Homo sapiens: one gene and its partners. The protein of the gene in region 3 purifies or fractionates together with the protein of the main gene of each other region. This does not show direct contact. Each region holds a gene or a part of one and is shown on either strand. Other genes may lie near its edges.

Evidence for each region.
Region 1: the proteins of ZNF485 (region 3) and MRPS9 purify together in Homo sapiens (affinity purification with mass spectrometry; one large-scale study listed by BioGRID and IntAct). This does not show direct contact.
Region 2: the proteins of ZNF485 (region 3) and ARID1B purify together in Homo sapiens (affinity purification with mass spectrometry; one large-scale study listed by BioGRID and IntAct). This does not show direct contact.

The regions. Positions count from the first base shown.
Region 1 is NC_000002.12:105,051,442-105,055,091, forward strand, and holds part of MRPS9 (small ribosomal subunit protein uS9m), read left to right. Parts: intron 1-3,650.
Region 2 is NC_000006.12:157,207,378-157,211,429, forward strand, and holds the end of ARID1B (AT-rich interactive domain-containing protein 1B), read left to right. Parts: coding exon 1-514; 3' UTR 515-3,402; downstream 3,403-4,052. UniProt on the Homo sapiens protein: Involved in transcriptional activation and repression of select genes by chromatin remodeling (alteration of DNA-nucleosome topology).
Region 3 is NC_000010.11:43,605,093-43,609,321, forward strand, and holds the start of ZNF485 (zinc finger protein 485), read left to right. Parts: upstream 1-1,345; 5' UTR 1,346-1,454; exon of another isoform or gene 1,455-1,471; intron 1,472-1,904; 5' UTR 1,905-1,958; coding exon 1,959-1,982; intron 1,983-3,521; coding exon 3,522-3,648; intron 3,649-4,141; exon of another isoform or gene 4,142-4,162; coding exon 4,163-4,229. UniProt on the Homo sapiens protein: May be involved in transcriptional regulation.

The DNA of each region.
Region 1 (3,650 bases), on a different chromosome or scaffold from region 3:
TTATAGTAAGTTTTGAAATTGGGAAGTGTAAGTAGTCTTCTTTCCTTCTTGCTTTTAAAGACTATTTTGGTTGTTCTTTGCTCCTCGAATTTTCATATGAAATTTTAGGATCAGCTTGTCAGTTCCTGCAAGGAGCCACCTAAGATTTTGATAGGGATTGTGCTGAATCTCTAGATAGATTTTGAGAGTATTCCCATCTTAATGTTAGTTAAGTCTTCTGATCTCTGAACATGGGGTGTCCCTCTATAGATACAGATCCTTTTTAATTTCTCTCAGTGATGTTTTGTAGTTTTCAGAGTCTAAATTTGGCACTTTTTTGTTAAATTTATTTCTAAGTATTAATGTCTTAACTTCTATTGTAAATAGAATTGTTTTATTTTATAATATTTTTGGGTTTCTTATTGCAAGTGAATACAGTTGATTTTTGTATATTTTTGATTTTGAATCTACATCCTTGCTGAACTTACTAATTCTCATAGTTCTTAGTGGATTCCTTGGGATTTTCTAAATACAGGATATAGCAAGATAGCCCATATATAGAAGGGTATAGCAGGATATCCCATATATTTACGAATCCCAAAGAATCCACTAAAAACTACAAGAATTAGTAGGATATTTCACCTGAAAATGGAAATAGTTTTACTTCATTTTTCCTATTTGGATACCTCTATTTCTTTTTCTTACCTAATTGCCTTGGCTAGAATGTCTAACAATGTTGAGTAGAAATGGCAAGAGTGGATGTCCCAATTTTGTTCCTGATCTTGGGGGAAAGCATTCAGTCATTCACCATTAAATATGATGTTAGCTGTGCGTTTTTCATGGGTGCTCTATCAGATTCAGTAAGTTTTTTTCCATACCTAGTTTGTTGAACTTTTTTGTTGTTGTGGTTAGTGTTTTTGTCACGAAATGGTATTGGATATTGTCAGATGCTTTTCCATTTTGATGATGATTTGGTTTTTGTCTTTTGTTCTGTTGGTATGCTGTATCACACAAATTGATTTTTGTATGTTAAACCAACCTTGTGTTCATGAAATAAATCCCACTTCTTTGGTGTGTATACTCTTTTTTTATATGTTTCTGGATTTGGTTTGCTAGCATTTTCTTGAGGATTTTTATGTCTAATTGATATTGGTCTGTAGTTTTCTTACAATGTTTGTCTGGTTTTGATATTGGTAATACTGGCCTCATCGAATGAGTTAGGAAGTGTTCTCTCCTCTTCTGTTTTTGGAAGAGTTTGTCAAGAATTTGTATTAATTCCTCTTTAAGAATTTGGTTGAATTCACCAGTGAAGCCATCTGGGCCTGGGCTTTTCTTTGTGAGTTGTTGTTGTTGGGTTTTTTTAAATGCTTACTTTTTAAAATGGTCCTACCTCCTTGTGGTCTGTGTGTCCCAGAGTAACTGTTCTTAGCAGGAGGATTTCATTACCCAATTGAGTTTACTACTAAGATGTTTTTGAGCAACTCTTAACTACCTTTTTGGTTTGTCTGTTTGTTTGACTGATAAAGACAAGGTCTTGCTATTTTGTTGGCAGGCTGGTCTGGAACTCTTGGCATCAGGCCATCCTCTGACCTTGGCCTCCCAAAGTGCTGGGAGATTAAAGGCATGAGCCACCACGCCCAGCCCCACTTCACTACCTTTTTGGATGTACATGGGGCATATGTAGCTTATTGAAAAAAGCAGAATCATTCAACAATTTTGTAATTTTATCTGAAGGTATAAGTATTTTCACAGTGTAAGTATTAAACATGAATTTTGTTGTTTGGAGTAGTTTGTTCATTGCTTGGATGTTTACCCAGAATATTAGTTTGGGATGTTAATATTATTTTCATGAGGACTTAATTTATATAGAGTAGCTATGGTCTATAATTTAATTCAATTACATAGTTAAAAGTCTAGGCTCACTATAATTTTCACATAGACAAATTAGGCACCGTTGTATTCAGATTAAGCTATTAGTTATTTTATATATTTTAGAAACTAGTTTTTTCATACTAGTTATCCAATTACTAAAATAATGATCGTGAAGACCATTTATGAATTGCATTTGAGCAAAACATTTAAGATTTAAAACAACCCTTTCATATATTAAAATATCTTTTAAAGTATTTACAACAGATACAAACTGGTGATTCCATCTAGAATACGTTTTTAATAGTTAGAGAAATCTAAAAGGATCCTGTAGCTTAGTGAATACATTCACATTCAATCAGGTAGAAACCAATTTTAAACAATGTATTTAGTTCTGGTTCTCAAAATATAGAATTATTTTCCAGAGAAGAGATACTTAACATCACTATGTAAAGATAAGTGGTGGCAGCTATTCTGTACTTTTAAAACTCTGTGTGTGTATATATGGTAAAAGCAACTTGATGTCATCTTGTGTGATTGTGTTAACAGAATATTATAAAAATCTACCTTTAGATTTAGCCAATTAAGTAATCAAATCATGAATTAATAGGAAAAACATCCAATTGCTTCTTTAAAATATATAGACTCTTCTAAAATGAGGTTGAATTTATTGTGTGGAATATAAATGCAGAACATACAGAAAGCTTTATTAGATTGATTTTTTTCTGTCTTTTTATTAAAAATTCATTGTAGTTGAAATGATCTTGTAGAAAAATACAGGACCTGGGATTTAGAGATTCCTTGTGATGTCACTAACTAGTGTCGTTGAGCAAGTCAGGGCTCTCTGTCACTTGATTTTCTTATCTCTAAAATAATAATACCGACTTGTCTACCTCAGAATATATCTAAAAGGCATGAGATTAATGCAGTGTGTTATTATTCCTGTTACTATTAACAGTAATAAATACCATCTGCCATAACTGGAATCATTCTCCAGTTCTCTGCTTTGTCACACAAGTCTTCCATGCCACCTGAGAATGAGTGCTGGGGAGAATCATCTGAAACACTGTTGGGTACATTGATTTATCACTGATTGACTATACGGGAGGTTGCTTTTGTCTCCTGTAGGTTGATATTGTCTCACCTAGCTTGGTATCTAAAAAGCCCATATGGAAGTGAGTGTTAACCGTTTTCCTTGACACCAGTGACATAATTCTGCTGTGCTAGACTTTGCTGCAAGTGATTGATCGGCTTCGCTGACTCTTGTGGCATTTTATTAAATATAGCGGACCCCTTTTGGTATCGCATTTTATTAAATATAGCGGGCCCCTTTTGGTATCGCATTTTATTAAATATAGCGGGCCCCTTTTGGTATCGCATTTTATTAAATATAGCGGGCCCCTTTTGGTATCGCATTTTATTAAATATAGCGGGCCCCTTTTGGTATCGCATTTTATTAAATATAGCGGGCCCCTTTTGGTATCGCATTTTATTAAATATAGCGGGCCCCTTTTGGTATCGCATTTTATTAAATATAGCGGGCCCCTTTTGGTATCGCATTTTATTAAATATAGCGGGCCCCTTTTGGTATCGCATTTTATTAAATATAGCGGGCCCCTTTTGGTATCGCATTTTATTAAATATAGCGGGCCCCTTTTGGTATCGCATTTTATTAAATATAGCGGGCCCCTTTTGGTATCGCATTTTATTAAATATAGCGGGCCCCTTTTGGTATCGCATTTTATTAAATATAGCGGGCCCCTTTTGGTATCGCATTTTATTAAATATAGCGGGCCCCTTTT
Region 2 (4,052 bases), on a different chromosome or scaffold from region 3:
GAGACTTGTGCTGGAGACCCTCTGTAAACTCAGTATCCAGGACAATAATGTGGACCTGATCTTGGCCACTCCTCCATTTAGTCGTCAGGAGAAATTCTATGCTACATTAGTTAGGTACGTTGGGGATCGCAAAAACCCAGTCTGTCGAGAAATGTCCATGGCGCTTTTATCGAACCTTGCCCAAGGGGACGCACTAGCAGCAAGGGCCATAGCTGTGCAGAAAGGAAGCATTGGAAACTTGATAAGCTTCCTAGAGGATGGGGTCACGATGGCCCAGTACCAGCAGAGCCAGCACAACCTCATGCACATGCAGCCCCCGCCCCTGGAACCACCTAGCGTAGACATGATGTGCAGGGCGGCCAAGGCTTTGCTAGCCATGGCCAGAGTGGACGAAAACCGCTCGGAATTCCTTTTGCACGAGGGCCGGTTGCTGGATATCTCGATATCAGCTGTCCTGAACTCTCTGGTTGCATCTGTCATCTGTGATGTACTGTTTCAGATTGGGCAGTTATGACATAAGTGAGAAGGCAAGCATGTGTGAGTGAAGATTAGAGGGTCACATATAACTGGCTGTTTTCTGTTCTTGTTTATCCAGCGTAGGAAGAAGGAAAAGAAAATCTTTGCTCCTCTGCCCCATTCACTATTTACCAATTGGGAATTAAAGAAATAATTAATTTGAACAGTTATGAAATTAATATTTGCTGTCTGTGTGTATAAGTACATCCTTTGGGGTTTTTTTTTTCTCTTTTTTTTAACCAAAGTTGCTGTCTAGTGCATTCAAAGGTCACTTTTTGTTCTTCACAGATCTTTTTAATGTTCTTTCCCATGTTGTATTGCATTTTTGGGGGAAGCAAATTGACTTTAAAGAAAAAAGTTGTGGCAAAAGATGCTAAGATGCGAAAATTTCACCACACTGAGTCAAAAAGGTGAAAAATTATCCATTTCCTATGCGTTTTACTCCTCAGAGAATGAAAAAAACTGCATCCCATCACCCAAAGTTCTGTGCAATAGAAATTTCTACAGATACAGGTATAGGGGCTCAAGGAGGTATGTCGGTCAGTAGTCAAAACTATGAAATGATACTGGTTTCTCCACAGGAATATGGTTCCATTAGGCTGGGAGCAAAAACAATGTTTTTTAAGATTGAGAATACATACCTGACAACGATCCGGAAACTGCTCCTCACCACTCCCGTCATGCCTGCTGTCGGCGTTTGACCTTCCACGTGACAGTTCTTCACAATTCCTTTCATCATTTTTTAAATATTTTTTTTACTGCCTATGGGCTGTGATGTATATAGAAGTTGTACATTAAACATACCCTCATTTTTTTCTTTTCTTTTTTTTTTTTTTTTTTAGTACAAAGTTTTAGTTTCTTTTTCATGATGTGGTAACTACGAAGTGATGGTAGATTTAAATAATTTTTTATTTTTATTTTATATATTTTTTCATTAGGGCCATATCTCCAAAAAAAGAAAGAAAAAATACAAAAAACAAAAACAAAAAAAAAAGAGGGTAATGTACAAGTTTCTGTATGTATAAAGTCATGCTCGATTTCAGGAGAGCAGCTGATCACAATTTGCTTCATGAATCAAGGTGTGGAAATGGTTATATATGGATTGATTTAGAAAATGGTTACCAGTACAGTCAAAAAAGAGAAAATGAAAAAAATACAACTAAAAGGAAGAAACACAACTTCAAAGATTTTTCAGTGATGAGAATCCACATTTGTATTTCAAGATAATGTAGTTTAAAAAAAAAAAAAAGAAAAAAACTTGATGTAAATTCCTCCTTTTCCTCTGGCTTAATGAATATCATTTATTCAGTATAAAATCTTTATATGTTCCACATGTTAAGAATAAATGTACATTAAATCTTGTTAAGCACTGTGATGGGTGTTCTTGAATACTGTTCTAGTTTCCTTAAAGTGGTTTCCTAGTAATCAAGTTATTTACAAGAAATAGGGGAATGCAGCAGTGTATTCACATTATAAAACCCTACATTTGGAAGAGACCTTTAGGGGTTACCTACTTTAGAGTGGGGAGCAACAGTTTGATTTTCTCAAATTACTTAGCTAATTAGTCTTTCTTTGAAGCAATTAACTCTAACGACATTGAGGTATGATCATTTTCAGTATTTATGGGAGGTGGCTGCTGACCCACTTGAGGTGAGATCTCAGAAGCTTAACTGGCCTGAAAATGTAACATTCTGCCTTTTACTAACTCCATCTTAGTTTAATCAAAGTTCAATCTATTCCTTGTTTCTTCTGTGTGCCTCAGAGTTATTTTGCATTTAGTTTACTCCACCGTGTATAATATTTATACTGTGCAATGTTAAAAAAGAATCTGTTATATTGTATGTGGTGTACATAGTGCAAAGTGATGATTTCTATTTCAGGGCATATTATGGTTCTCATATTCCTTCCTACCTGGTGCACAGTAGCTTTTTAATACTAGTCACTTCTAATTTAAACTTTCTCTTCCTGGGTCATTGACTGTTACTGTGTAATAATCGATTTCTTTGAAACTGCTGCATAATTATGCTGTTAGTGGACCTCTACCTCTTCTCTTCCCTCTCCCAATCACAGTATACTCAGAATCCCCAGCCCCTCGCATACATTGTGTCGGTTCACATTACTCACAGTAATATATGGAAGAGTTAGACAAGAACATGCAGTTACAGTCATTGTGAGACGTGACTCTCCAGTGTCACGAGGAAAAAAATCATCTTTTCTGCAAACAGTCTCTCATCTGTCAACTCCCACATTACTGAGTCAAACAGTCTTCTTACATAACAATGCAACCAAATATATGTTGAATTAAAGACCCATTTATAATTCTGCTTTAAATACATCTGCTTGCTAAGAACAGATTTCAGTGCTCCAAGCTTCAAATATGGAGATTTGTAAGAGGGAATTCAATATTATTCTAATTTCTCTCTTACAGAGTACAAATAAAAGGTGTATACAAACTCCGAACATATCCAGTATTCCAATTCCTTTGTCAATCAGAAGAGTAAAATAATTAACAAAAGACTGTTGTTATGGTTTGCATTGTAACCGATACGCAGAGTCTGACCGTTGGGCAACAAGTTTTTCTATCCTGATGCGCAACACAGTCTCTAGAGACTAATCCAGGAAGACTTTAGCCTCCTTTCCATATTCTCACCCCCGAATCAAGATTTACAGAAGCCCACGAAGAATTTACAGCCTGCTTGAGATCATCTTGCCTATAAACTGAGTTATTGCTTTGTCCTAAAAATTAGTCGGTTTTTTTTTTTCTATGAGGCTTTTCAGAAATTTACAGGATGCCCAGACTTTACATGTGTACCAAAAAAAAAAAAAAGATAAAAAATAAAGGTGCAAAGAAAGTTTAGTATTTTGGAATGGTGCTATAAAGTTGAATCTGTTGGTATTTGAGTGGATTTTTTTAATGTCACATAAGAGATACTGGGCGGCGTCTGCTCAGCAATAGCTATTCACAGTGTTTTGTTCGAGGAAGAGAATGATATAGAAGCATGTTTTACTGATGAAGGTGGCCTGTTCAAAGACTAGTTAAGCTGTTTTTTCAGAGTTATAATGAAGAATGATTTTTTTAAGGGCATATGGGCAGTCTCATACAATGTAAGCTATTAACTACCTCCTTTATGAAAAGAAGCCAGCCTTTGCCCTGAAGTCCATCCATTTAAAACTGTTGGAAATCTTTCATTTCCTATCAAACCACATGTACCTGTTCCCATGTCTGTTCACCTTTGAGGAAGCAAAGAAAGTATTATAAATGAGCCACAAATGGACAGTGCAAACAGTCCCTGTTCTTCTTGCTGAGTGTTGGTTCACTTCTTTATTTCGAGGGCCGTGGCCCAGCTGCCTGAAGTCCTGCTCAGCACCAGCCTAGAAGAACTTGGAAGTAAACTTCATGGTCAGGCAAGATTGTTAAAAACTCTGATGAATACACTTGGTAGCAGCATTTAATCTGCGAACAGGCAACATTACTCATGAATTTAACAGAGATGTGTTGAGCACATGCTATGTGCCTGGCTCTGTTCTAGGCTCTG
Region 3 (4,229 bases):
TTGATTATCTCCACAATGCCCACCATATCATCGAATACCAGACCAAGTTTCTTACAATTATCTACTGTAATGGAGTTAATTTTGCCCTTGATTTGCAACATCGTGTTGACACACTTGTATATGTAAGCCGCCTGTTTCAGCTCTGTGTCATCAATCACCAGATTGGAAACATTTTCCTGATTTTCCACTCTCCACTTCTTGCCCTCCAGTTCAAGTACAGCTGGCTCCTTCTTTGTGGCTGGTTTGGGGTTTAGGTGCAGAGAATGGCTTGGGGCCACTGCGTACTGGACCACTCTGAGCCTTCAGGGTAGGGTTCTTGTGAGTCTTCATGTCATCAGATACACGTTTCAGGGCATGTGTGATGCTCTCCCCCTGATTAATCTGCGCAAACAGTGCTGAGAGGGAAGCGGACTCATCTGAGCCTGAACTGACAGAGACTAGTGGAGGAGGGGGGCCTGGTGGTGGGGGAGGAGTAGCTGATCCAGCAGAGGGTCCAGATGGCAGTCCACTCAGTTCTTTTGTCACAGGCCCCGTTTTGCTCCAGGCAGTCCGGTGGTATGGAACTCCTTAATGTAAGCCTGCAGCTCTGTGCATATACTTAAATAAGCTTTGACTCAGTCTACATGCTTCTTATCCACATCTTTGTACTCTTTAAGGACTCAGTTTGTATAAAACACAGCAGCATGATTCATTTCTTTCACATAAGGGCCAGGATTGGGAGCCATAGCCACCCAGCCTAGGGCCTGGATACTTTCACTGACAGCTGACAGCTGATTAAACAACTTGCTGCCTCGGTTCTTCTCCCAAAAGGTTATCACTTCTTTGATCTGCTCTGAGATAGGTGCCAACAGATCGGAAAGCTTATTACCTGCCGGCTATTGACACTGAGAAGCTGTAACCAAGAGAGCTCACTCCAACTTCAAAACTGTGTGTACCATCTCCACATCTTTCTGCACGTCTTCCCCAATCTCTTTACTGATCTTCAAGTACTCTGCCACAGGGCAGGCAAGCAGCGAGTCAAATGCCTGCGCATATGGAGCTGCTCCTGCTTTTGAAGGACTATCTCCATATCCACGGTGCATGTCAGAGGTATGGGATACTGCCTCCAGGCGGCCCACTGCCCTGTCCAATTTTTTACCAGATTTTGCATGTCAGTCATAATGTATCACCTCCCGACTGCGATCAGCCGCTCTCCACTTCCCGCACCTTCACTTTTCAAAGATTCCCAGGTGATGCCAACCTGCTCTGCGGATGGAGCCCCTAAGACCCCAAGCGGCCCAGACTACGTTTCCCAGAGGCCTCCGCGGCCTCAGCCACTTCCGCTTCCGGTCCAGCCTGTCTCCGCGTGGTGCGAGCGCTGCACCAGCCCCTGGCTGGTGGTTACTGTCCGAACGGCGTGGTGTGGTCGCTGACTCTCTGGGCGTGCAGCTCCGCAGCCCTGCCGGCTCGGTTCGGTTCGTGAGCGGCCGGGGTCAGGCTGGGTCCCTGAAGCCTCGAGCCCCTGGCGGGTGCTCCCCGCCTTTCCCAGGGGCGGGTCGAGGGGCGAGCCGGGGTGGGAGGGGAAGGCGGCGGTGGGCAGTGCCCACCCGCAGTGGCTGCGCCGTGTGGAGCGACCGCTCGAGGCTGGTGCATCACAGAGCGCTCCAGCCTTGCGCCCCGGCCGACAGATTGGGCCACTGACAAGGCCGTCCCCCGGTGCTGCCAAAAGTGTTTGGCGTGGAGCTGGCTGCAGTCCAGGCCGGATCCCAGCAGCCGTTCCCTTTCCTTTCTTCCCGAGCGTACCCACCTGGACCTGTCTGCCCACCTGTGGAGGGAACGGGCGGGCGGGGACCTGGTCTAGAGGGCAGATTCTAGCTAGGCTAGGGCACGGAGGGACTTCCTCAATTTCCTCTCTTCTTTCCCAGATTGACTTACGCAGGATTCTCAGCCCTTGCCTGGGAGAACAGTTCAGGAGACAGATGGCCCCAAGAGCCCAGATCCAGGCAAGTTTGATTTTTCCATTTCTTGAGAAACCACGTGTTTCAGCGAGGTGGGGTTTATGCCTCTTGCCCGGACAATGCCCTGCCCTGTGTGTGGACAAAGCTACCCGAACCAATCCTGGATGGGTCCCGCGATTTCCGTCCTGTCTACCCATTACGTAGTCATTCACCAAGTAGATTATTGCTACCCATGTTTTCTAGAGTGCTAGAAACAGAAAAGTGCTTTGCAAACTGGCAGACGATGAAAAAAATACACGTTAGCATGTAAAGACGTAGGCCATAAAGACATAGGGTGATAGCAGTGCTCTCTTGACCTTTAGTGTGTGGTAGGGTGGGAGGGGTGGAGTAGTGGGCGCCTTAGTTCTTCCTGAAGAATAAATGAGATTTGCATAATTGCAGAGGATACTAGGGGAAAGCGCTGCCTGAATGAAGTCATTATGGCGGGACCATGAACAAACTGGTCTGAGAAAGTTGGAAACATTCATGGTCTAGAATCCCAGACTGGAGTTTGCTTTTATCCTGGAGAAAACTAGGTTTTGAAGGATTTTGAGAAGCTGATTAAATAATTGGTATTTTGAAAGGAAGTGATAAACATTTGAGTGTCTATTATACAAATAAAATTAAAAAAATTAAAGATCACCTACATTTCTACTGCTCTAAGTCAAGTAATTTCATTTGAAACACACTTTTCATTTTTTTAAGGCTTACTCATTTTTTCTTTTAGTATTTCATAGCCATTCCAATTTGTTCTAGTTTCATTACCACTTTTTGTGGCTTCCTTTTATACTGTGCCTTCAACCAGCCCTGGGACCTTGAGCAAGTTCTTCCAACTCTCTGAACCTTTGTGTCTTTAGCTACGAAATAGATTTTACTTTATATAGTTACGGCAGAAATTTAGAGAGATGATATGTATCTCAGGGTTTAGCACCGTGGCTGGTACATAGTAAGTTGTTACTCTTATGAAAAGCAATTTTTTTTTCTTTTTTAAAAATATTCTGCCCCAGAGTCAGATCATACTCCCTGTAAATTCTCGGATAAAGCTAATCACTTTCCATGTCTTTTCAAAGTTTCTATTCATTTGTTGATTGAATAAAGCTTGAACACTTCTGTGTCAGGCAGTGTTTTTGACTGGGAGGCAGCAGTGACCCACACTGTCCCCCTGGAGCTCACATTAGAGAGGATGCTGACAGTCAGTGCAAACCTCTCCTGCCAGGTGGTGAGAAATCCTGTGAAGAAAAGTGAAATGGGTTTCGAGACTGAGTGGCAGAGGATGGGGTGGAGAAATAGAAGACCTTTTTGATGAGGTGACATGAAGGGTGGAGTGAGCAGAGGCTAGGCCTGGAGGAGGGAGCAGGACAGGCATGCAGGAAGAACCTGCTCAAGGGAGGAGTCGCACATCCCCTGAGCCCTCAGCTTTTACTTGTTGGTTTCCATGAGCACTGTTGGAACTGTCAGAAGCTGGCTTTGACCACCTTGCTTCCTTCTCTTGGGATGCCTCCCTCAGGGGTTCCCGGATGAGCAGAATTGGGTTTGGTTTTGCAGGGACCGCTGACATTTGGGGATGTGGCTGTGGCCTTTACCCGGATTGAGTGGAGACACCTGGATGCTGCTCAGCGGGCCCTGTACAGGGATGTGATGCTGGAGAACTATGGGAATCTGGTGTCTGTGGGTGAGGATGGCTTTCTCCTTGACTCAGGATTGGTCTGCTGGGCAACTTTGTGTTTTCACAGGGTGAATGGTTTGGGGTATTGAAAAAATCTTAAATGATGTGCTTTTTGTTTTGTTTTTCTTAAGTATGGGCTTAGAGGCTGGAGTTTATGCCCCTTACACCCCTCAAGAAAGGTCAGAGCCATACAGAGTTAAGATGGGTAGCTTTGTGGTGCCAACTAGCCCAGTTCTGGAATGTTTCTGTGTCATGATTCATCTGCCTCCCAAAATAGGAGTTTCTCGTCCTCCAGGAGGACCTGGTTTTCTAGTTGACTTTGCCCCCTCCCTTTGCTTTACTTCATGAGTTGGACATCCTGGGTGCCACCCTCTAGGCCTCTCTGACCTGTCCATGCTCATTGCAGATGCTCAAGTTGACACTGAGGTCTGGAGTGACTGCTTGTGCTTGTAACCGCCATCACATTCCTTTTCATTCATTTTTTTTTTCTTCCTCTAAGATCCTTTTTCTTTATGAACAGGGCTTCTCTCTTCCAAACCAAAACTAATTACTCAGTTGGAGCAAGGGGCAGAGCCCTGGACTGAGGT